Linked DNA regions of Homo sapiens. The protein of the gene in region 4 interacts with the protein of the main gene of each other region in a pairwise test. Each region holds a gene or a part of one and is shown on either strand. Other genes may lie near its edges. The genes, in order: CTSB, LEPR, HEATR1, XRN1, EXOSC10, STAM2 and ANGPTL6.

Evidence for each region.
Region 1: the proteins of XRN1 (region 4) and CTSB interact in a two-hybrid assay, tested with the Homo sapiens proteins (one large-scale study listed by BioGRID).
Region 2: the proteins of XRN1 (region 4) and LEPR interact in a two-hybrid assay, tested with the Homo sapiens proteins (one large-scale study listed by BioGRID).
Region 3: the proteins of XRN1 (region 4) and HEATR1 interact in a two-hybrid assay, tested with the Homo sapiens proteins (one large-scale study listed by BioGRID and IntAct).
Region 5: the proteins of XRN1 (region 4) and EXOSC10 interact in a two-hybrid assay, tested with the Homo sapiens proteins (one large-scale study listed by BioGRID).
Region 6: the proteins of XRN1 (region 4) and STAM2 interact in a two-hybrid assay, tested with the Homo sapiens proteins (one large-scale study listed by BioGRID and IntAct).
Region 7: the proteins of XRN1 (region 4) and ANGPTL6 interact in a two-hybrid assay, tested with the Homo sapiens proteins (one large-scale study listed by BioGRID).

The regions. Positions count from the first base shown.
Region 1 is NC_000008.11:11,844,088-11,847,587, forward strand, and holds part of CTSB (cathepsin B isoform 1 preproprotein), read right to left. Parts: intron 3,082-3,500; coding exon 2,965-3,081; intron 1,703-2,964; coding exon 1,574-1,702; intron 1,136-1,573; coding exon 1,038-1,135; 3' UTR 1-1,037. UniProt on the Homo sapiens protein: Thiol protease which is believed to participate in intracellular degradation and turnover of proteins. Cleaves matrix extracellular phosphoglycoprotein MEPE. Involved in the solubilization of cross-linked TG/thyroglobulin in the thyroid follicle lumen.
Region 2 is NC_000001.11:65,598,668-65,602,167, reverse strand, and holds part of LEPR (leptin receptor isoform 1 precursor), read right to left. Parts: coding exon 3,364-3,500; intron 777-3,363; coding exon 486-776; intron 326-485; coding exon 208-325; intron 1-207. UniProt on the Homo sapiens protein: Receptor for hormone LEP/leptin. On ligand binding, mediates LEP central and peripheral effects through the activation of different signaling pathways such as JAK2/STAT3 and MAPK cascade/FOS.
Region 3 is NC_000001.11:236,552,517-236,556,016, reverse strand, and holds part of HEATR1 (HEAT repeat-containing protein 1), read left to right. Parts: intron 1-77; coding exon 78-212; intron 213-361; coding exon 362-466; intron 467-552; coding exon 553-721; intron 722-1,264; coding exon 1,265-1,419; intron 1,420-2,277; coding exon 2,278-2,436; intron 2,437-3,035; exon of another isoform or gene 3,036-3,500. UniProt on the Homo sapiens protein: Ribosome biogenesis factor; required for recruitment of Myc to nucleoli. Involved in nucleolar processing of pre-18S ribosomal RNA. Required for optimal pre-ribosomal RNA transcription by RNA polymerase I.
Region 4 is NC_000003.12:142,417,038-142,420,537, forward strand, and holds part of XRN1 (5'-3' exoribonuclease 1), read right to left. Parts: intron 1,845-3,500; coding exon 1,778-1,844; intron 1,573-1,777; coding exon 1,467-1,572; coding exon of another isoform or gene 1,433-1,466; exon of another isoform or gene 804-1,432; intron 193-803; coding exon 103-192; intron 1-102. UniProt on the Homo sapiens protein: Major 5'-3' exoribonuclease involved in mRNA decay. Required for the 5'-3'-processing of the G4 tetraplex-containing DNA and RNA substrates. The kinetic of hydrolysis is faster for G4 RNA tetraplex than for G4 DNA tetraplex and monomeric RNA tetraplex.
Region 5 is NC_000001.11:11,089,870-11,093,369, forward strand, and holds part of EXOSC10 (exosome complex component 10), read right to left. Parts: intron 1,729-3,500; coding exon 1,624-1,728; intron 1,311-1,623; coding exon 1,145-1,310; intron 800-1,144; coding exon 685-799; intron 1-684. UniProt on the Homo sapiens protein: Catalytic component of the RNA exosome complex which has 3'->5' exoribonuclease activity and participates in a multitude of cellular RNA processing and degradation events.
Region 6 is NC_000002.12:152,116,764-152,120,263, forward strand, and holds the end of STAM2 (signal transducing adapter molecule 2), read right to left. Parts: 3' UTR 38-3,500; downstream 1-37.
Region 7 is NC_000019.10:10,092,679-10,096,178, forward strand, and holds part of ANGPTL6 (angiopoietin-related protein 6 precursor), read right to left. Parts: coding exon 3,304-3,500; intron 2,261-3,303; coding exon 2,080-2,260; intron 1,203-2,079; coding exon 1,015-1,202; intron 942-1,014; coding exon 671-941; intron 566-670; exon of another isoform or gene 102-565; coding exon 1-101. UniProt on the Homo sapiens protein: May play a role in the wound healing process. May promote epidermal proliferation, remodeling and regeneration. May promote the chemotactic activity of endothelial cells and induce neovascularization.

The DNA.
Region 1 (3,500 bases), on a different chromosome or scaffold from region 4:
GCAAGCTTACCAGGCACTTACAGAGAAGGTTGACGAGGATGACAGGGAACTAATTGGGGGAGGGATGCCATGGTTGAAAACATGGCTGGGGCAGCGAGAAGTTAAGATGAAGTCCCAAGAGTCGCAAGAACATGCAGTTCCAGGACGTGATTCTCTGCAGGGACAAAGAGAGACAGCAGCTACAAGTCTATAGGCAGTGACAAAGGATCTGAGATCCCATCAGAGTAGACTTCAAGTTGGAGAAAACTTTTATTGGCACAGGCATTCCTTGTTAACTTGACAGGGTGAAGCTGTAATTTTTCAAAAACAGTAAAAGCTGGTTTCTCCTAAACTATTTTCCTTGTGGTAGTAGAGATCAGTGGGTCAGAAACAACTCCTGACCACTTGGTTTCCTTTTGAGCCGCGTCATAAGGAGGCAATCTGTAAAACTAGCACAGGTCTCCCGCTGTTCCACTGGCTCACCCACATGATTAGCAGAGTGCACGAAAAAATAAAACTTCTATTAAAGAATCATGCTGAGCACAAGATCAGAGAGGTTGTGACATTGCAAACTCGATAGATGCAGGGGGCCTGGGAGACTGGCGTTCTCCAAAGGGCTCCCAACACCGTCTCTCCTCTGATTTCTGTGACAAATGTGGAAAGCTACTTGCTTGGAGGTACTGGGGGAACTGATGGGGGAACTTTCATCCTGTTAGGAACTCCGCTTTCCATTCCTGCGTCTCTGTCTTGCTCCCTGGAGATGGATGGATCACGGAGGGGGCCACAGTCAGCTGGGGCAGCAGGTACTCCCTACGGCACTAGTCTACAGGGGGAAGGACGCTCTGTGCTGGCAGCGGTGGCTCACATGGCCTGTCTGCACTGTAACCACAGGCTGGGATGTAGCCAGGACTTGGTCTCCTTGGAAGACAGGTCTGATGTTTGGCCAATCCAGTCCTTCAGACCCTGTCTGAAACTTGTATCTTACGTGAACTTAAAGAATAAAATGCATTTCTACCCCGATCTCGCCCCCAGGACTGGCACGACAGGCCCACGGCAGATTAGATCTTTTCCCAGTACTGATCGGTGCGTGGAATTCCAGCCACCACTTCTGATTCGATTCCACAGTGATCCTGTCCTCTGAGTATTTTAAAGAAGCCTGGGAATAAAAAGTAAGGTGCTTTTAAAGTGTGACAAGGGTCAACCAATATAGTCAGACTCATCCTTAAAAGACCTTAAGTCACTCATCCCTGGCCACTCCTGCTGTTGGCCCACTAGCACAGTCCTCAACACCACAAGGCTTCTGGAGCCGTGGGGCACACCTCCACGGGCAAGCCCCCTGCCCGGTCACCCTTCCCATCACAGGATCTGGCGCGATGCTGTGGGAACTGTTGCAGGCGTTGGCTCTGAAGCTGCTCAGAGTCTGCCCTCACAGCAAAAGGGAACTCCTGACTGCCTGGCACTTAGGAGGAGCTCACAGCCTGGCCGTAGGTCCAGGGTTTAAGGCTGTGCGGTGGGTAGAACAGAGAAAGCCGAGATGGCCACGGGGTGTGGCTCACAATTCACTGTTCTTGGCAGGAAGGGGGCAGCCACTCACCATTGTCACCCCAGTCAGTGTTCCAGGAGTTGGCAACCAGCCAGTAGGGTGTGCCATTCTCCACTCCCCAGCCCAGGATGCGGATGGCATGGCCACCCATCATCTCTCCGGTGACGTGTTGGTACACTCCTGAAAAGGGAAGAACTGGCTGAGACCGAGACCGGGCCACTGTCCCACGCCCCACAGCACCCCCCACACTCAGCTGGTCATGCTCCGGGAAGGAGAAACAGCTTCCAGAGGGAACCTGCTGCTCCACCAGGAGGCTCCAGGGGGGGTCCCACAATACTGGGGAATTAAATATATTTTTGAAGGCCCAACACACTCAAAGTTGTTGAGTAAATATTGAAATAGATTCCTACAAAATGTGCTTGTTGGCTTTAAAAATAGAATTTCTAATACATTCTAATTGATAAAACATTTAATGCTAGATGACTGATTCATCTGTTCTTTATACTGGGATTCCATGTAAGTAAGGGTTTGTCAAAAGCGTTACACGGCTTAAAGAGTTTTAATAGCTGCTCCAGGTACACCCTGAAGAGGTGAGGGAGGAGAAGGGAGGACTGGTGGCAGCTAATGCTAGCTGATGGGAAAGATACTGGCTAAGGGGCTCAGGGCTGCCCAACCAGGCTCTCGGGTGGGGAAATCACTGTCAAAGTGGAAATGCATCTTTTAATAATAAGGGCGAGGACTATGCTAAGAAGTGCCATCTTCACAGAAACTTTTTCTTGCCAGAATCATCTTCCTTTGTCAAACTGTTGTTTTACAAGTTTCCAATCTAGCAAAATATTAATGGGATAGATGCAGTCAGCAAAGACTGTTCATCTGGAGCAAGGGATTTCTAAGACAGGACTTGGGGATGGGGACTGTCCAGATTCCTTGGTTGGAGTCCCTATGGCACTACCCAGGGCAAGGTCCTCCCTGTGTGTTCATCCACTGGTGTGAGGCACGATCTAGGCCTTTGCAAAGAGAAAGATGAAGAAAATGTGTCAGCCAGTGCAAACACGAACGGCCTGCCATTATAACAGAAACATGCTGGTAAAGCAATGCAAAGCCAGGAAGGCGAGGGCAGGCGTGGCCAGCCACCAGGGAGGGGGGCGTTCCCACAGAGAACATGTATGAGCTGGACGCTAATGGATGGGAAGGAACTAGCCCAGAGGCTCTGGGAGAGGCCTCTGGAATTGTGTGTGTTGGCACAACACCTGGACAAAGACAGTCAGGTGCCAGGCTGGTCCACAGAGGAGTGAGCCTATATGGAAGGCCCCACACAGCCCTCTTCCCCAGCCCCTCACCTGCCTGCCCAATCCAGCCCTATTGGTCAACATGAACCATCCTGGCACCCAGGCTCCCCTCCCGACCCCCACCCTCTATTGCCATCAGCCATCAGCACGCACCTGACTTGTAGAGCAGGAAGTCCGAATACACAGAGAAAGCTCCCTCCACGGGGCCGTTTTTGTAGATCTCGGCCATGATGTCCTTCTCGCTATTGGAGACGCTGTAGGAATTGTATCCTGGAAAATGAACCGAGCTCGGGGTTGGGGAGGGCAGTGACCGTGCCTCGTGGCACGCCACGGTCAGCCAGTCACTGATTTCTGGTGGCCTCCAGGGGAAGACTGCATCTAAGGGGACTTGCCCTGCCAGGGGAGCTCAAGGAAGGCTCCCCTGAAGAACTAAGGACAGGGCTGGGGCTGGAAGCTCAGAAATGGGAGAACGGAGCAATGAGCACGAGGCCCCGGAAGAGGCCAGGATACCTCAAGACTCCAGGACACGCCACTCCCTTGTAAAAGGAGGGCTTTGGTCCCTTCCAGTTTGGAAGGGCTGAGGCTGAGTTCAGGGTGGAACAGGCAGAAAGTGGAGAGTGTGCTGCTTCTCCTGGCAAGAGGGCATCACTCCCCCTCCTCTATCCTAGAGTTCCGGGACCCCAAGGCTC
Region 2 (3,500 bases), on a different chromosome or scaffold from region 4:
ACAAATTACAATTTTTTAATCTCAGGTGTGAATATTTTTCAAGAATCACCAATTTATATAATCCCTCAAAAATTTCCTGATTCATTATATTATACTTTCCTCTTTCAGGAAGCAAATAATCTGTAAGACTACTGTTGTAATATTTCTAAAGAAAATTTTTATCTCACTGTGCCCACAGAAAAACAAAACAGCAAAAATAATACGTACCTATGATACCTCAATTGCAAAGTGCTTTCCGCAAGTGACTGGATTGTACTGGTTGACCATCTGCAAGTCATTTTAGTTAAGTACCCATCAGTTTCACATGAGATATTGATATTGACATCTATTTGAAACATATTAAAATATTAATATAAAGCAAAAACTCCAAAAAATTCAATGAAAAAAATTTTTTCTTACATCTTTAACAGGACTCTAATATAAGGAGGGTCCATAATGAAAATTCAAGTTGTGGAACAAAATGAACAAAACCTCTGTTTTCTTACCAATCACATATAATTCAGCATAGCGATGATGGCATTCATGTTCATTGCAGCAGTACACTGCATCATAGGTAAACTTTCCTCGAGGTTTGGTTTCATTCAGATTGAAAAAAGTAACTTTGCTAACATGATCACTCACAACATCATACTGGCTTTGAGGAATTTTCTCAGCTAAATTCATCCACCAAACAATCTCTTTTGAGGGAACAATCTTGTTTTCCTTCTTATAGATGCAGTGAAAAGAAACATTAGACCCAACACTTGTCAGAATTTTAGGTGGAAAGTATATGACATCTGTAATGAGGGAAGAAAGGATATCAGATGAAGACAAAACATTCTGTAAGTAATTTGTACCACATCGAAAAATATTCACAACACATTCCAGAGTTACACTGCCAAAAATAAAATGAGTGTAATTTAAAAACTGGATAATGCTGAAATTACCTGTTTGTGTACAGTTATCTAGTGTCCCGAGTGCTCTCATTCTAAAGTGAGTTGAGCTTCCATGAATGTCTTTACTATCTTCTAAACACAGAGGCTTATTCATCATAAAATATGTTTTAGCCAGTAATTGTCACTTGCTAACTGATAGGCAGGAAAGTGACTAAAACAAAATATAGCTTAATTCAACAATGACATATTTTCCAACAGACCCTGCTTTGGGAATCAGTGAAACTAGGACAAGTTCTTAAAGCAAATCACTATGAAGCCAAATCCTGAAGTAAAAATGATTGCCGCTATTGTCTTGTTTGGATACATAAAAATTTCAAGTAAGTAGGTAAAGATACGAGATATAAATTAAAAAATAGGAATGTCGTATGAATGATAATGCAGCAATATACAAAGCAGAGAAAATGGGAAATACTGGTTTGTACTATCATTTTGAGTTATTTAATGCCAATATCCTATGGATGAGGGTAAAGGGAAGCGATATTTTCCTAAAACATGATTTTTTTAATGCCTACACATGATTCTATACTATTTTTAAAGTCCTCTGTTGTTGTAAATTTCATTTGCCTATCATTTTCAAAGACATGCGAGATACAAGTAAATGATGGTTTACATAGGAAGAAATTATTTCCACCACAGTGCACTGCAAAAACGTCAGTACATTTCAGTTGTAAAGTTAAGGTAAACCATTTTCTGTTGATAGACTATGAAAATTTGTTTTCACACATATCTTGGGATTACCCTTAAAAACAGAAACAAAAATACTTTAATTGGTTTTTATTAAGTTTTCTTTATTCTGTAATAGCATGGTAAACGTCAATGTCTATATATTTACAATTCATACAAAACATTTGTGTTTTGTATGTCCATAATCAAATAGAAACAGGAAAAAACTTAGTAGCATAAAATTACTGCACAGGAGCCAGACCATTAGATTTATGAGCGTGACTGAGTATAATCCTAGCCGAGGTGGCACTCAAGCTTCACTTGTACATTACTTACTGTGGACAAGTACCTAGTACATTAACCTATCTTAACCTACCTTCAGTATGCGCCACAACCTCCTTACTCAACTGCCTCAAAAGTCTCAGAATAATTCTTATTTAAAAATAAAAAATATAATTGAGTTTTCATGGATTAAGCTGAAGTTTTTCATTTTAAAGATGACAAGAAAATTCAAAGCATTTCACTTTGAAATCAAATACATATAGTAAGGCTTAACTGAGAAATAAGATTAAAGTCATAGTATTTTTACATGATTAGATGCTAAAATATTAGCTTAAAATAAGAAAACTAAGTTAATAAAAACCTGACAATTTGTGAAATTTACACTGGATAAATTTATTGAAATTGATATGAGATATTGAATATTTAATTTGCAAAATTTTAATAATATAGATACACATTTTATCTGCATATGACATACTATGCAATTTTTAATTTGCAGAATAAGAAAACAATAATGGTTTTCTTCACATGACCAATGTTAATTATTTCATTTCATTATTTAATTTTATATGGATATTTCATATCCATGTAAAACATCCCTATTTTACAGATAAGGAAATTAAGGCATAGAAAGGTTAAGAAACTTTCCAAATAAGTGGTGGAGCCAGAACTCCTATAAACTTCTGTTGGACTCCGAAGTCAATGTCTTAAACTACTATTGCTACTTGCCTTTTGACGAATCAATGCTTTTAAAATAGTAAGCAATCAACAAGTAAACTTGTTAAATGGATTGATATTTGCATGGTACCTGTTATCTCTGTACAGGCCATAATCAATCTCAGTAAGTCTGAACAAGAAAAATTTTGCCCTTTTGACAGATCGGACAACCAGCCAAAGGACTATTGTCTTTCTATAGTCCCAACTTTGCATGCAACAGGTCTAGGACCATTCCAAGCCTCTGGAGCCTCTATGCAAAACTTTGCGCATCAGCTGCATGAAGAAGCTGTGAATGAACTGTAGATGTTCCGATGCTAAAAATAACCTTTAAAATATGAACATTGGCACTGAAAACTCTCAAAAGCAAGCATCTGGAGTAAAAATAATTCATTTATTATATAATATAAAGTAAAATGTTAATATTTGAATTTTATGTCAAATAAATATGCTTGGTTTTAAAATGTAAATTAAGGAATTATCAATACAAATGGCTTTCTGAGTTTGTTAATTTGGAGCTGTTATATTAATTTTTTCTTTTTAATAGGAAAAGTGATCCTACAATATACTGCAATAGAAACACACAAGCCTAGAGGCTCTGACAGAATTTTAATTCACAAATTGGCCTGTTCAAAGTTTAAACAAGGAAGTTGATACTGTGTTCCTCCTTTCATTTTAAGGCCTCAAAATGTAAGATGCTTATACTATACAAAGGCAAGTTCAGGAAATATATTTCCCTCCCAGTAGAAGTGGCTATTACATAACCTACCTTGTGTGGTAAAGACACGAGGAGTACTCCAGTCACTCCAGATTCCTGGGCCATCCAGTCTCTTGCCCCTCACCTGAACCTCATACGAAGACCCAGGAAGTATACTGTCTACTAGCAGGGATGTAGCTGAGACAATC
Region 3 (3,500 bases), on a different chromosome or scaffold from region 4:
TAGTTTTTAAAAATACACACCGCTGAACTCTAGGAATCATTTGAAAATGGCACATCTCTTTCCTGTGTTATTGGTAGAATCACATGGGTCCGTTTATGAGCATCTTGCAAGAGCATATTGGGGTGATGAAGAAGGAAGAGCTCACCTCCCATCAGTCTCAGCTAACCGCCTTTTTCCTGGAAGCCCTGGACTTCCGAGCCCAGCACTCTGAGGTAAGCTCAGGTTCACTCCTCCAAATCCTAAAGCTGTTATCCACCTATTGAAGAGTCCGAGAACAATCTAGCCGTGTAACAGTGGTACTTGCCAAAATAATTTACAGTCAGGTATCAGCACTCTAATAAATGGGCTCTTCTGTTTTCAGAACGATCTGGAGGAAGTTGGAAAAACGGAAAATTGTATCATTGACTGTCTAGTAGCCATGGTTGTCAAACTTTCCGAGGTCACATTCAGGCCCCTGTTCTTCAAGGTGACGCTTTCTTCCTCTTCCTCTCTTTTGTGCTCAGATTTAAGTGACAAGATGTCGAAGAAACTAATACTGTCTTATCCTTTCAGCTGTTTGATTGGGCTAAAACAGAAGATGCCCCAAAGGACAGGTTGTTGACATTTTACAACTTGGCAGATTGCATTGCTGAAAAGCTGAAAGGGCTTTTTACTCTGTTTGCCGGCCACTTAGTGAAGCCTTTTGCTGACACCTTGAACCAGGTGAACATCTCCAAAACAGGTGGGTGGTCGCTTCAGTTCAGCTGTCACCCTTGCCCTGTGTGCCTTATACAAGGTACCAGTAAGACACAACCTAGTGCTTGGAAGCAAGATTTTAGAGGTTCTTAAGTCCTAAGCTAAGGAGGGTGAATTTTTTACTTCATTGTTGTCAGACAGTGAAGTGTTGTTTTAGCATCATGAGCGAATGTTATAAGTCACCTCACTTGGGAGAAAGAATAAAGTAAATGGCCGTTACTGTCAGTTACTGGAAGTAACTTTAAAACGCAAAAATTAAGATTAGTTTATTCTCTAATGCTAATACGTGACCCACTTGACAGTTGAGGGAATTTAACTTGCCAGAGTGAGTGTTAGAATCTTAACTCTAAAAGAAGGAATCATTCTTCGAGAGACCATCCATTGTGTTCTGCCTTCGTCCTGATTATGATTTCTAGATCATTTTAGACTCTTCTGATTTAGTTATTTTAATAGTGATTTCAATGTAAACATTGGAGATTAAATGGTTAAGTTCAGTGTTTTTTCATTTTTACTCTTCCCACGTCTACAGATGAAGCATTTTTTGACTCTGAAAATGACCCTGAAAAGTGCTGCTTGCTGTTGCAGTTTATTTTGAACTGTTTATACAAAATCTTCCTTTTTGATACCCAGCATTTTATAAGTAAAGAGAGAGCAGAAGCCTTGATGATGCCTCTGGTGGATCAGGTAACCAAACAGAATCATCTTTCGTTGCTGAGGAAGCCATCACTGTTCGAGCTTGGCAGGTTTTAGATCTGCTCAAATGACAGCTTGCTAGGATTTTTCTTTGTAAGGTTGTTTTTTCTGGTCTTTTTAATGAAATGTTTTATTTGAAAATTGTTTTTTCAAAGATATAACTTCATTGTGGAATTTGAGTTTTGTTTTGTTGTTTTGAGACAGGGTCTTGCTCTGTCACCCAGGCTGGAGTGCAGTGGTGCAATCTCGGCTCGCTGCAACCTCCACCTCCCGGTTTCAAGCAATTCTTGTGCCTCAGCCTCCCGAATAGCTGGGATCACAGGCGCCCGCCTCCACACCTGGCTAATTTTTGTATTTTTAGTAGGGATGAGGTTTTGCCATGTTGGCCAGGCTGGTCTCGAACTCCTGACCTCAAGTGATCCACCCACCTTGGCCTCCCAAACTGCTGGGATTACAGGCGTGAGCCACCATGCCTGGCCCTGAGTTATTTTTTATTTTTTATTTTTTAAACTGCTCAAAAGACAGACATGATATAAGCTGTCATGGTTAATGTATTCATTTGTTTTAACTGGGCCTCACTGAGAACGCGTCAGAGCATGGCTGTCCTCTGGAGCAAAGAGCTCCTCTGAGATGTTCTGCTGGAGAGAAAGGGGCGATGATAAAGGGTATGAGATTCCATTTGAGTTCTAGAAGGCAATACATTTGCCCTAGAGAGTATTAGAATAATGCCTGGTTTTTGAACCTGCTAATATCATGAAAGATAGTAAAATATTTGTATGTTGGATATTTTTTCAAACAGAAGAAAGAAATGAGACTTGTTGTTCAAAGTCTTTGTCTTACTCTTCCTAGCTGGAAAACAGGCTTGGGGGAGAAGAGAAATTCCAGGAACGGGTGACAAAGCACCTGATACCATGCATCGCACAGTTTTCGGTGGCCATGGCGGATGACTCTCTTTGGAAACCACTGAACTACCAGATTCTGCTAAAGACGAGAGACTCCTCGCCTAAGGTTAGGAACTGCGTGACAAGTACTGAAACTGCATCTTTTCACTGCATAGCCTAAACAGCCTGCAGGTGGTCACAGATGTAGGCCCCCTAGTAAACTGGCAGGGAAGAACATTGCTATTTGTCATCCAGTACTAGAGGTCCGGTCTTTTGTATTAGGCAGAAATTTGTGCCTAAGAAAATTTTGTTTTTTACTTACAGGCTATTTGTAAAGAATAGCAATGCCCTATCCCCACCCCAATGGTGCGTTGGGCAGAAGTACTAAAATACTTTCTAAATACTTTTAAATAACAAAGATTTGAAGTAATTCCTTCTTTTTTAAGTGCCATTGAAATGTCATTGTGCTCCAGAGAGAAATGCATTGAATTTATCCACACTATAGTCTTTTGAGTTAGAGCAATACATTCTGTTGTTTATAGATACTAGGCTTATGATCTTGTTGAGTAAGTGGTGGCAGTGGAAATAAAACATGGGTAGGTTGAGTGGAAGTCAAAATTTGACACCCAAGTGTTACGAATTTCAAACTGTTTTAGCAATGAGTCACCATTTCTCAAACTAATGATTGTATTAGAACTTTACTGGCTATAACAGACCAAAGCAGAATTTTATTAATAGGATTTATTAGTTCAAATTCTTTATTAGGATATGCTAACAATGAGACTATTATGATGAACCCCCACATTTTAAACCATAGGTTTTTATACAAGTAGCAGTATCAAATTTATTGTAATATTTTACTTTGCACAAATCAAGGAAATCCTGATTGAATCTAGGTAGTTACAAATGGTTTTTTAATAATTCACTTTGTACTGTCCAGATATTCTTTAATTAAAATATCCAAAATTAGAAGACCAGTAGGGCTTTTGTTTCAAAAGCTAACAATACCCAACTACTGCTTGCTTTCCTTATTATAGACAAGGCATGTGAGGAACACCTAGACGTTTTTAAAGCCCCAAAACTAGGATATTGTGACACAGAATGTTTTTTATTCAGTGCTGAGATGGGAGTTTATCCCAAGCGACTGTCCTGGCCCCTCATACAATTATAGTGGTGACCAGTCAGGGGCTG
Region 4 (3,500 bases):
TTACCATAAGTAGAAATAAAAGGAAGTGCTTCCTAAATAAGACTCTAGTAGAATGAATCATTATAAAAAGACAAAACTTTATTTTTGTTTTTATTCTCTCACCAGCTCCAGGACTGAACTCCATGATAGTAATAGTGCAAAATCCACTGTATTGCCTGAACATAACATGCAGCTTGATCAGCCAGAAAGTCACTGAAAATAGAATATTTTCATTATAACATATTTTCTGAAGACAGGCCCGTGTCTTTAGAGCACGGTATCTGCTGATACAACATTTTACCTCAGATGATTTATTTAATCAATGAATTAGCTATTTATGGCTAAAAATTATAATCCTAAAAACTCCAAAATATTTTTAAAAATTACATCCTGTCACATGACAGTTTTCCTAAACCAACTATCAAAATAGATAAGTCTGTTATTCATATTTACTCAGTTAATGTACCACTCCCTTGGTCCAAAGGTTGAAGATTTACCCAATGAAGCTTTCCATAGTGACACTACCACTCTCTTAAATAGTGGGGGTGAGACGGGAGAAAGGGATGGGAATCTTCTTTACATGGGATGATATCTGAGAGAAGCAAAGCAGCAAATCAGGAAGATCTTAAAATTTGGTCACAGAAGCTAGAATGCTTTCAGAAGTGCTGTATGTGAACAATATTCCTTCTAATCCTTTCTTTGTCAAAAACCAAATGCCATCTTCTAAGTTTGGGTAAAATAAGTCTTCAAATCATCAAAACAAAACAAAACAGAGCCCTGGGCTAAAGGCAAAAATATTCACTTAGAAATTACATAACTACATATTTCTGGGAGGTAGTTTTTTAATATGAAAAATATTGCTTTTTTATTATAAAAGAACTATTTCCTCAGGAGTGAAAATCTGGACAATGAAGAACAGCATTTTTATCATCTTATAGCCATCACTTTTACATTTTTAGTGTTTCAGTCTTTTATCTATATCTAGGTTTTTTTAAGGTTAATGAGAGCATACTGTATGTATGATTTCATGTCTTGCCTTTACAATTTGTACTTAATAATGTACTATAAGCATCCTTCCAAATTGTTATGAACTTTCTGCAAGTACCAGTTTAGCAGTTCTGCAGATTCCGGAGATGGAAGAGGTGACAGAGATGGTGACTGTAATGAAGAAGCAGTGGCCAATTATGATGAACCTTCTTATTGGACATTTAGATTATTTCTAATTTTTTTACTATTATAAACAACTTTGTAACAAAAATCCTTATACATAAGGATCATTTTCTCTTCAGCAATTTTTATCACAGGAATATAATACAAGTCAGAATTAATACCATCTTCTCCAAAACCAGACTAGTTGAAACATACACAATAATTCATGAAACCAAAAAATCCTTTTTCTCCCACTACTTCATCAAAATCATATTTTCTGAATAACTGCAAAATCTAATTTTTTCTATTTTAAAATAAAAGCATTGGCAAAAACGTACTCAGATACTACGTCAACCCCCATCTTCGTCATGTAATATGTTCTTTTATATTGTCTAAACTCAGTTTCAAATAGGTCATCATCTTCAGTCTCATCTTCTAAATTATCTGGGGAAAAAAGTCAGAAAGATAGTGACTGACAATTATGAATAGCCTGTTTTTCCACCTAATGATTTGATAAATGCATATCCAAGTTGATGCTTATATGCTATCACAGAAATCTGTTCCACCCAAAATTAGTAATAATAAATAAAAGGTATAACAATTATCCTGTCAAAGTAGTAACATATCAAAACACATACTTCATACTTACCCTTAGAAGTTATCATTTCGCCTTCATTTTTGTCTAAAGCAGTCCAACACAGAGAATTTTCCTGGCCCTGTAAATTGTAAATCAACATAAAATGAATGGCAAGATACATTTCAAAATGAGATGTCATTTCTCTTCCATGCACCCATTTGCTTTTCTATAGTTCTTCCATGTTATAACATCCTTCATATCCTGCCCATCTGTTTTTCCTCCCTTGTGATCTCAATCCTTTCTCTCCTCTATTCTCTGATTTCCTGTCTACTGCCAATGACTCTCTTTAGTTCTTCCTACTCCCTTATCCCCATTTCCTTTCTTTCATCCAACTTATGGCCTCTACCAACTTCCTGTGTCTGGGCTATTCCTGCACAGTGTCTCTAAAGTTAGCTGCATATGGCTGGAAGACTGGTGAAGTTTAAGTACTGAATTGTGGTGGGGGAGCCAGGGATTACTGACAGGTAAGTTTTGTGTGTACAGGTTCCCAAAAAGTTGCAGAGCCCGTTTTCTTAGGGGGGGAAAAAAAAAGACACACACACACACACAAAAACCAGTGGAATGCAGACTGACTGCTGCCAAGTTCCAGTGAGGAAGAGCTAAGCAGCGAGAAGGACTACACTAGAGAAAACAAGGACAGTTGCCCCTCCTGGAGCAAGAGTCATTAAGTTTGAACCTAAATAGAACCAGTACAGCAAGGAGAGTAAGAAGCTCAACAGAATCTTGGCCGGGCACGGTGGCTCACGCCTGTAATCCCAGGACTTAAGGGAGGCCAAGGTGGGCAGATCACGAGGTCAGGAGTTCGAGACCAGCATTACCAACATAGTGAAACCCCGTCTCTACTAAAAATACAAAAATTAGCTGGGTGGTGGCGCGCACCTCTAATCCCAGGTACTCAGGAGGCTGAGGCAGGGGAATTCAAGCGAACCCAGGAGGTAGAGGTTGCAGTGAGCCAAGATCGCGCCACTGCACTCCAGCCTGAGTGACAGAGTGACATGCTGTCTCCAAAAAAAAAAAAAAGAAACTCAGCAGAATCCAATAATTACAGAGAGGCTGAAGAATTTTTCACAAGAGGTTTACTTTTCAAGTTAACACAAGACATTCTTTGGAGATTATCAGAGATGCTCTGCAGGGTACTATCATATTCTAATTGATTCTATTATTCATTTATTAAGCACATAACATTTACTAGATATTGTGCTATTAGGCTGGCACAAAAGTAATTGTGGTTTTTGCCATTACTATTAACTTAGACTATTGTATTTTATATGTAAATCATTTCTAGAGAAAAATCACTGATCTAGTTAATGTCTCATATCATTAAACACTATAAATATCCACATTTTAAAAACTAGTCCATTGTTTTAAAATAACAATTTTTTTTTAATTAAAAAAAAATTGCCAGGGGAAAGTGTGAATGCAGTCCTCCACTACCATAAGTCACGCAGTTCAGTTTCCCACATTTGGCGAAATCGCAGGGCATCAGCACATCCAGAGTGCAATGGATAAACCTCGCCCTGGGAAAACTACCTTCATGATCATGGTATCCTCCCTGTCAGGTTTTAAATAATTGTTTTTCTTTTTTATGAGACAGAGTCTCACTCTATCAGCCAGGCTGGAGTGCAGTGGCTCAGTCTTGGCTCACTGCAACCTCTGTCTCCCAGGTTCAAGTGATTCTCGTGCCTCAGCCTCCCAAGTAGCTGGGATTACAGGTGTGTGCCACCACATCCAACTA
Region 5 (3,500 bases), on a different chromosome or scaffold from region 4:
GGAGGTAAAGGCTGTAGTGAGCTGTGTTCATGCCACCACACTCCAGTCTGGGCGACAGAGCAAGACCCTGTCTCAAAGAAGTTCCAACTCTACAAGAAGCCTGCATCTCTAATTTTGCTTTTACATCTTTTTTTTTTTTTTTTTTTGAGATGGAGTCTTACTCTATCACTCAGGCTGGAGTGCAGTGACGCCATCTTGGCTCACTGCAACCTCCACCTCCCAAGTTCAAGCGATTCTCCTGCCTCAGCCTCCCGAGTAGCTGGGATTACAGGCACACACCACCTCGCCTGGCTAATTTTTGTATTTTCAGTAGAGATGGGGTTTCACCATGTTGGCCAGGCTGGTCTCGAACTCCTGACCTCAGGTGATCCACCGGTCTCAGCCTCCCAAAGTGCTGGGATTACAGGCGTAAGCCACCGCGCCCAGCCTTCGTGTTTTACATCTATAAAATGGGAATAAGAGCAACTGCTACTTCTCAGGACTGCAGTGAGGTTTACATGAGGCAATGCTGTGTAGGCCCTTTGTGAACACAAACAGCAGGTTTTATTGCTAAGGCCCAGGTTGGGGTGTAAGGAGGAAATCACTACTCCTCAGATTGTTTTCATGTATATACTCCACAAAAGTGAAAATGTGGCAAAAAGGTAAGTACTCACGGCAGAAAGTCAGACACAGGCCAACACTTACATGTCTTGCTCAACCTGCTGGGTTCTCTGCTGATGGATGAAATCAGCCAGTGCAGGGGGGACGTCCAAGTCCTCAGGACGATCCTGTGGGCGTTCCCGCCTTTCCTTAGAGAGAGCTGGGGATCCCAGCAGTGACAAAAACATCATTAGCACATTCATGTCTTTTCTAATTACACAGGGGTAAACTGGTTCCCTTTGTTTTTTGGCTTTTTTTTTTGAGACAGGGTCATGTTCTGTCCCCCAGGCTGAAGTGTGGTGGCACAAGCACAGCTCACTGTAGCCTTGACCTCCTGGGCTCAAGTGATCCTCCCACTTCAGCCTCTGGAATAGCTGAACTGGGCTCCCTTTGAACAAAGGAGGGTGGGCTCCCTTTGAACAAAGAAGAGAGACCTGTACACCCTTCCTGGTTTTTGCATCAAATAAAGTGAGACTCAAACACAGGCAAAGTATGCACTATTTACCTTGAGGGAGAGGTTTCTGAGCATTGGGTTTGATGAAGATTTTAGGAAGAAATGGTGTGTTGGAATTGTCAATCTTCTCTCGAAACTTGAGCTGAGGTCGGATGATATTTTTTGCATGAAGCAGCCGGAAAGTTTCAGATTTTGCTTTTTTGCCATATTCTGCTGCCTATGATCAATGAATACAAATACTTTATAACACAGCAACTTGATGAATTAGAAAAGTAAATTCCAATTTATGACTTCTGAGGAGACAAGAACATCGCAAAGGTCATTCATTCATTTAAGAATGTATGTGCATGTAGAGGTCTCCAGAAAGAGAAGAAGAGGGTGTAATTAGTTTGTGTATGTTTATGAGAACAAACTAAAGGAGACAGTGGCCAGTTCTCTAATAAATTAGAACAGAAATGCATGTTAGAATGAGCAAAATCTCTGTTATGAAGCTGACATCAAGAGCTCTAGTTAATCTGAAAAGCCCTCACCTTACGGTTCCAGCTGGACACTACCGTTTTGGGGACCTGCAAGCCGGCAGGGAGGACAGGCTGTTGATTCTTGTTTACACCTGAGGCTTCATCCAGTAAAATACCCTAAGAGTAGAAGAGGTACTGGTTAAGCATTTTTCCTTTTGAGGTTAGCAGAGTTAACTACCTAACATTTTATTTATTTAACATGGAGTATCACTCTGTCACCCAGGCTGGAGTGCAGTGGCGCAATCTTGCCTCACTGCAACTCTTTACAGTTCTGAATTGGGCTCACTGCAACCTCTGCCTCCAGGGTTCAAGCGATTCTCCTGCCTCAGCCTCCCGAGTAGCTGGGATTACAGGTGTGCACCACCATACCTGGCTAATTTTTTATTTTTAGTAGAGATGGGGTTTCACCCGGTTGGCCAGGCTGGTCTCGAACTCCTGACCTCAAGTGATCCGCCCACCTGAGCCTCCCAAAATGCTGGGATTATAGGCGTGAGCCACCGTGCCCCACCTAATTACCTAACATTTTAAAGAGATTGGTATTCAGAGACATTTGTGTAAGAAAATATACATATATAAGAACAGATCAATGTATGTATCAAAACATCAAGTTGTATGTAATAAATATATAGATGGTCCCCAATGTATGACAGTTTGACTTGTAAGTTTTTGAGTTTACAATGATGTGAAAGTGATTTGCATTTAGTAGAATCCATATTTCAAGTACACTTACCACCTGTTTTTCTTTTTTCTTTTTTGAGACAGAGTCTTGCTCTGTTGCCAGGCTGAAGTGTAATGGCGTGATCTCAGCTAATTGCAACCTGCCTCCCGGGTTCAAGCGATTCTCCTGCCTCAGCCTCCCAAGTAATTGGGACTACAGGCATGCACCACCACGCCCAGCTAATTTTTGTATTTTTAGTAGAGACAGGGTTTCACCAGGTTGGCCAGGATGGTCTCGATCTCTTGACCTTGTGAGCTGCCTGCCTCGACCTCCCAAAGTGCTAGGATTACAGGCGTAAGCCACTGTGCCTGGCCCTGTTTTTCTTTTTTTTTTTTTTGAGAGGGAGTCTCACTCTGTTGCCCAGGCTGGAGTGCAGTGGTCCAATCTCAGCTTGCTGCAGTCTTCGCCTCCTGGGTTCAAGCAATTCTCATGCCTCAGCCTCCCGAGTATCTGGGACTACAGGTGCACGCCACCACGCCCAGCTAATTTTTGTATTTTTTAGTAGAGATGGGGTTTCACTATGTTGACCAAGCTGGTCTTGAACTCTTGACCTCAAGTGATCCACCTGCCTTGGCCTCCCAAAATGCTAGGATTACAGGCATGAGCTACTGTGCCCGGCCACAACCTGTTTTTCACTTTCAGAAGTGTATTCAATGCTACTTGAATTACATGAGATGAATATTCAACACTGTATTATAAAAATAGGCTTTGTGTAAGATTTTGCCCAACTGTAGACTAATGGAAGTTTTCTGAGCACATTTAAAGCAGGTTCAGTTAAGCTATTTGGTAAGTGAGGTGTATTAAATGCATTTTTGACTTATAATATAGGTTTATTGAGACATAACCATGTAAATGATCGCCTATACAATTTTTGTCAATAAAAAAATAAAAATTTTACAAAGTTGATCAATAAAGGTCATTAGTATGTCATGCCAAGTAATTAATGCATTATTTGCTCAAAGGCAGGTAGGACAGTAATTACCCATGCCCAATACTCGATTGACTCTTTAAAGCTCTGAATTGGGCTGAAAATTCTAATATGATTTAACAGTGTAATGTGGCCACTAAAATAACTAAGAAGTCCCTGGACTGCATACATTAAATATAGAAGTACACTATTTAGAATGAAACTGCAGGGAGTCCTCATCTATTTTGCACTTTAAAGCAGACG
Region 6 (3,500 bases), on a different chromosome or scaffold from region 4:
CAAAAATATTAAATGCAAAATTACAGATAACAATACATACATTTTAAATAACTTTTATTAGAGTATATTGTTACAACTCTTTCATCTTATTAGTTCTGCTGTTAAGTGCCAAATTCATAAACTTTATCATAGGGATATGTATGCATAGGAAAACAAACAGTATATATAAGGTTCAGTACTATCTGCGGTTTCAGGCATCCACTGGGGATCTTGCAAATGTATCCACCACAGATAAGGGCGGGGGTGAGGGGTGGCTACTGTTAAGTCACATTGTGACATTCCAGGTGTACATGAAATTTGGAGGGACACTATTCACTATATCACACAAGCAACATAATGCCTCTTTTGACACAGTAAGATTTTAAAAAAAAGACTCTCAAACTTTAATTCAGCTTGATAAAATTAGAATTCTTCTTCTGGGGAATTTTCTTTTTGAGACAGGATCTCATTCTGTCAGGCCGGAGTGCAGTGGCGTGATCACACCTCACTGCAGCCTCAAGCAATACTCCCACCTCAGCCTACTGACTAGCTGGGACTACAGGTGCACTACCACACCTGGCTAAGTTTTAAAATTTTTGTAGAGATAGGGTCTTGCCATGTTGCCAGGTTGGTCTCAAACTCCTAGCCTCAAGCAATACTCCTATCTCAGGCTCCCAAAGTGCTGGGATTATAGGCATGAGCCACTGTATCTGGCCTCTGGGGAAAACTTTTAGAAATATACTTTTAATTTTTGAAAGAAAATTAAACCAAACAAAAATCAAATCCCTAAAACTGAGTATTCCCATTTACTAACTGGCTAAAACTGATGATGAAAGAAGAAAAAGTACCTTCCGATAGAAATAAAGCATTATAGATCAGTGCTATTTATAATTTATTACTTATCAAAGTAACTCCAGCTTTCTTATAGCAATTCAATAAGCCCTCTCCTAGAACTCAGGGGCTTTTAAATTTATGTTTTTACTAAGAAAACCTTTTTAAAAAAAATCCCTAAGCTATATGTTTTTAAAACATTTAAAATTGATTTTTTAAATTTTGAAAGTGAAATTATAACCATCTTCAAAACATACAGTAAAATGTATTACGTAGACAAGTATCAATTATTTCAAACAGCATGACAATTTAACTACAAATAATTTCAAATCCTAACAAATATAATTACCTAATGTTTAAGTAATTTTATAAATAAATTACCAAATTAGAAGACAGTATTGGTTGACTACATTTTACAAACTATAAGAATATATCCCACACTTCATATATTTTAACACCCTGGGGTATTTTTCTGCATTAATAAAATTCATTCTATTATAAATTTTCAGGAATTCTTTCTGATGTACCAAGATTTCATATGAAAAAGCAGAAGCTATTTTTTTATTTCTGATATAAAACAGTAAGTATGAACCCAATGTAGAAATCTGAAGTTAGACAATTCCCTTTGGCAGAAAACAATTATAAACAGGTCTTAATATAAATAGAATCCATAAGCCCATAAAAAGGGAAGTACACAACCCTGTGTTTCTTAACACCGAAAGAATCATCAGTACACAGATTTAAAATCATTTTTATCTCTCGACAGCCTGCAACACAAAATTACATATGGCAAAAAATAATTTTTAACTTGAGAAAGAAAAAAACTTCTGCACATATAAACTTTCACCGATGTGCCAATATATACTATATATTTATATATATATATATGTGTCATGTTTTATTATTCTAAAACTACATTATTTATAATGGCTGATCCCAATTTAGTGGGTGTGCAGTAATTATATTGGCTCAAAGACATGCTGAATTAAACTTTTATAATTGAGATCACAATTATACATGAAATACACAAACATTAAAATAAGTTTATTAAATAGAGTTTGGGAGAAAAAAAGTAAGAAATTCCATATATATGCAAATGTTGACTATTATCGAGAGCAGCTTTGGATTTTTTTTAAATGTTTTTTAAAAATTATTATTTTGTAAATAACAGAAGATTTGTTTCCAAAAAGTAAGGTGCCATTCAGAAGTATATAATTGAATTAACATAAAGGAAAATACTGAATAAAAAACAGAACATGAGATATTAAAGGTTAAAACTTTCTGTTCAGTTATTTGTATCTGAAGTTAAGACAATGACATAAACTGAGCTTTCAAATACTGCTAATTTTTCCACTTAAATGTAGATCAAGTACCATATAGACTATTTTGTTCTAGAATAAAGTTTCTTTGAAAAAGGAACATATTTATAATCAAATTTCTGTAGATAAATGGCAAAATTTTCAGAGAACTAGCTTGAAATGGATTTAGTAGAAAGAATGACTGCTTCCTTTAAAAAAACAAATATAGAAATCTTGCTTCCACGTAACTTTTTAAAAACTAATGTCCATTGTTTTTCCCAATCTGAATATGTTTCCATACATGTATGTATTTGCAATTTCTATTTTCCAATATGTAAAAAGTTGGTAGACAATGAAGTAGTGTGCAAATTTTTAGGAGAGAAAACAATCCCTACTGGTTTACTACCAAACTCTCACAGTTATATAGAATCTATTAGCACTATAAACTAACTCAAAATGCAGGCTTCAGAAAAACTGCTTCAATAGCCTCCCTATCAATCTGTCGCCTTCTATGAAGTCTTCACCTGCTATTATTCCACAGGCTGAGAATTACTTCTGAAAGAAATGGTCAATTTTTTCAACAGCTTGGTATGTTGACAGCTTAGCAACGGTACTTGAATCACCTCTTTAAAAAAACAACACACCACTAAAAACACACTTATCATCCATGCTTGGTATATCTCACAACAAATTATTAGGAATGTCTCATGGTTCAAATTCACACGCAATCCCATAAAAAGGATATGCAGCATCTCTGCACACCACATTGCAGGAAGAAAAACAAATGGACCATATCTTCATTAGAGAATAGCCAAAATCACTTGAAAAGGTTATTAGTGACAATTCTAAATACCAGAGATACATGTAGGAAAGAAAATGTTTTTCCTCAGGGAATGGAAATGTTTTGTGGGACATTCCTTCACAGTTGGCATGACTGTTTGGGGGACTGACTAAATGCTTTATCACACATCTGCATTTACAAGGTCTTCACTGTTAATCACAGAAAACATTTTTGTTCCTTCCAGATTGCTCTTGCTTCTGTAGACAATTATATGCTAATTATTATTCAACATAACAGTGAGAGCAAAAGTGACAATACTGCAAACACAACCGCAATTTAAGGAGCCAAAAAGAAATATGCTGGCAAGCTAAATGCTTACACACAAAAAAGTTAGACTTTTAAAGTGTGTGAGAAACTCTGAAAAAAATATTTCAAGTTCTTCAGTGCTCTTATGACATTTTAGGGGGAAACAGTGGTTTCTTTAAAATAATATTTTAATCCTCCTATCTCATACTGTTTATAAGTATGAGATACTTTTGACAAACTCACTCTGTCGATCATGCTACTGCACTCCAGCCTGGGTGACAGAGCGAGTTTGTCATAAGTATCTC
Region 7 (3,500 bases), on a different chromosome or scaffold from region 4:
GCGGCTTCGGTAGTGGCCGCCGTGGTGCCACACACCGTTGAGGTTGGAGTGGGCACAGGCATGGTACCACCAGCCTCCCCGCTGGTACAGGGCACAGTTACCTGAGGGGAGAGAGAGAGTCCATGTCCTCTCACCAGAATAAAAGCCTCTACCTGCACCTCACAGTGCAAGGCTTTTGCCAGGCATCCCCTGGCCCCTCCCATTCTTATTGAATACAAGCCCTGATCTTCCATCTCCTCAGCAAAAAAATAGGAGCCCTGGCCCCCCAACTTTCTTCAGAGTAATAGCCTTAATTCCTTCCCTATCTCCTTACCAAAGTACAAGTCACATCTTTCCCACCTTTTCTGCAAACTAGGAGTCTACCGTTCATTCCTTTATCAAAGAAAAGTATCTACTTCCTTTCTAGAATAAGAGTACTAGCTCTCACCCTCTGCCCTTTACTTGAACAGGAGTCTTGATTCTTTTTTTGCCTCATCAGAGAAGGAATCTGGACTCCCCATCCCCCCACCAGGATAAAAGTCCTGACCTTTGTTCTCTTGACGGAATAAAAGCTTGCTTATCCTTATACTTACCAGAGGGGCGTCTTACCTACCCTACCTCCTTTCATTCCCTCACCAGAACAGGAGTCCCGCCTCCCCTATCCTCTCACCAGAATAGGAGTTCTCCTTACCAGAATAGGAGTCTCGGTCCCTATCCACGGTGCTGAAGGGCTTGTCATTGTGCCAGGAAAGAGAGTCTCCAGCATCACCATGGTACTGGCCAAGCCGCAGGCGGTAGTGGTCGCTCTCGGGTTCCAGGGAGAAGCCATCATAGTGGGCACGTGCTCCACGGCCCCCCCAGTCCTCCAGGAGAACCAGCAGCTCATGGTCCCCACGGCTGGTCAGCTGATACACGGGTTCAAGGCCCAGCCAGTATTCTCCGTCTGGCCGCCCAAAGCCCGCCTGGCAGGGCAGGAAAGTCAGGAAGCCAGAACAGGCTCCCTCCCCTTCCCTGCCTCTGCCCACCTGTGCCCACCTTATAGTGCTGCCAGGTAGTGAAGAAGTTGACTGAACCATCTTGCCTCCGCTGGATCACAGTCCAGCCTCCACCCTCCAGTTGCTGCTCACACCATACTGACACTACGTGACGGCCCACTCGCAGTTCATACACTCCACTCTGTTCATGGCCTGCCTGGCGGGCCTCTGCACAATCCTGCCACGGGCCTGTGGGCACAGGGATAGGGGGGAGGCACAGCCTGGGCTGACCAATCCCTTACTGGAGCAAGAGTCAAGATTCTCACAGGTCCTCTCACCAGAATAAGAGTTCTGCCTCTCCCACTTTTCTACCAAAGAGTCCTGCCTCTCCCATTTCCTCACCAGAATAAGAGGCCTGCCTCTCCCATTTCCTCACCAGAATCCGAGCTCCAATAGCCATTTCTTTACCTAAGAATCTGGGTCCCTTGTCTCTAATCAAAGGAAATGTCAAGTCTGGGGTTCTTTTTTTTTTTGAGATGGAGTCTCGCTCTGTCACTCAGGCTGGAGTGCAGTGGTGCGATCTCGGCTCACTGCAACCTCATCCTCCCAGGTTCACGCCTTTCTCCTGCCTCAGCCTCCCGAGCAGCTGGGACTACAGGCGCCCGCCACCACGCCCAGCTAATTTTTTGTATTTTTAGTAGAAATGGGGTTTCACCGTGTTAGCCAGGATGGTCTTGATCTCCTGACCTCGTGATCCACCCGCCTCGGCCTCCCAAAGTGCTGGGATTACAGGCATGAGCCATCGCGCCCGGCCAACTCTGGGGTTCTTAAACCCTGGTTTTTTATGGTCTCCTCACCATAATATAAGTCCTGAATATGATACTCTGAACCAGTTCAAACTCTTACCAAAGTAGCAGTCCCAAACATCGCCTCACTAAAGTAAGAGTCCCTCCTCTTCTATTTCTTGTTTCTCCTATTTTCACACCTTAGAAGTTTGGTCTTATTTTTAATCAGAATAGGAGTATCATTTCTTCTGGTCTTCTCACAATGAGAGAAATCTGCCACTAAAATCCTGACTCCTCAATTTTCCTCTACCCACAATTCCTCAGCCCTAATGTCGACTTACCCACAGGCTTGGTGGGGACCGCAGGGTGACCTGCAGGCATGGGAGAAGCCATGGGCTCCTGCTGTCTCTGGGTCTGGTCTCTCTGGGGCTCTGGGGCTGGGTCCAGCATCCTACTGGTGTCACTGGTGCTACCCACAAGACGGACCGGAACCACAGGCACCAGTGGGGGTGGCGGCAGGACCTGGGGTGACGGAGAAAGTCAGGTGTAATTGCACTAACCCTCAGGCCAGGAGGCCTGGTCTCAGGGGCAGAAATGGTGGATAAATCTCCCAGCTCCCAAATGACCTGGACATCTGGCAGTGGGGGTGTCCCAGCCCTAGGAATGATCCTCCCCAAAAGCTAAACAACTTGGCTTTAAAGTGCAGACAGGCTGGGCGCTATGGCCCGTGCCTGTAATCCCAGCACTTTGGGAGGCCGAGGCGGGCGGATCACCTGAGGTCAGGAGTTCGAGACCAGCCTGACCAACATGGTGAAACCTCCGTCTCTACTAAAAATACAAAAAAAATTAACTGAGTGTGTTGGCTCACGCCTGTAATGCCAGCTACTCGGAAGGTTGAGGTAGGAGGATCGCTTGAACCTGGGAGGTGGAGGTTGCAGTGAGCCAAGATTGCACCACTGCACTCCAGCCTGGGAGACAGAGCGAGACTCCATCTCAAAAATAAAATTAAAAAAATAAAGTGCAGACAGAGCTGGGCTTAAATACCGGCTCTTGGTGCTCATGGTTTAATTGATCTGTGCCCCAGCCTCCTCTGTAGAGTAGGGATAATAACAACACATCCAACAGTATCTAACTTACTGACTCCTCTCACCAACCCTGTAACGTAGGGACTGTCACAGAGCAACATTCTCTTATCCCAAACCCAGACCAGGACACGTTCCAGAATTCAGAATAACACGGCTGGATTTAGACACAGTGACACAGGGAGGGTTATGTATATGCATGTGTGTATAGAATATACATAACACTCCTAAAGGGGTTTTTGGTCTTTACGTGATAATGATATGTTTAATTATAGGATCCTATGACTATTCACATTAAGTGGTTAAGTGAAGGCTATAAATAGCCACCAGTCACTTTTTGACCCAAATAAGTTACCAGAAGGGGCGAGTAGGAATCCGGTTTTCAGGGTTTTGCGGATTTCAGAACTGTGGATAAGAGATCGTGGGGTTGCAAAACCCCCATTTCACAGACGATGCTGCTCTCCGGGGAGGCTGCGAGGTTACCTGCTGCTGCCCGCCCGCGCCTCCCGGGCACAGGCGCTCCAGGCGGGCGATGAGACTGCTCTGCTGGGTGACGAGCTGCGCCAGCTCGCGGAACTTGACGTCCAGCTGGTGGAACCGGGCGGCTGCGCGCTGAGCCTCGGCGGACGCGTTGAGCACGCGCTCCCCGAGCAGCGCCAGCGCCGCGGCAGGCTCCGCCC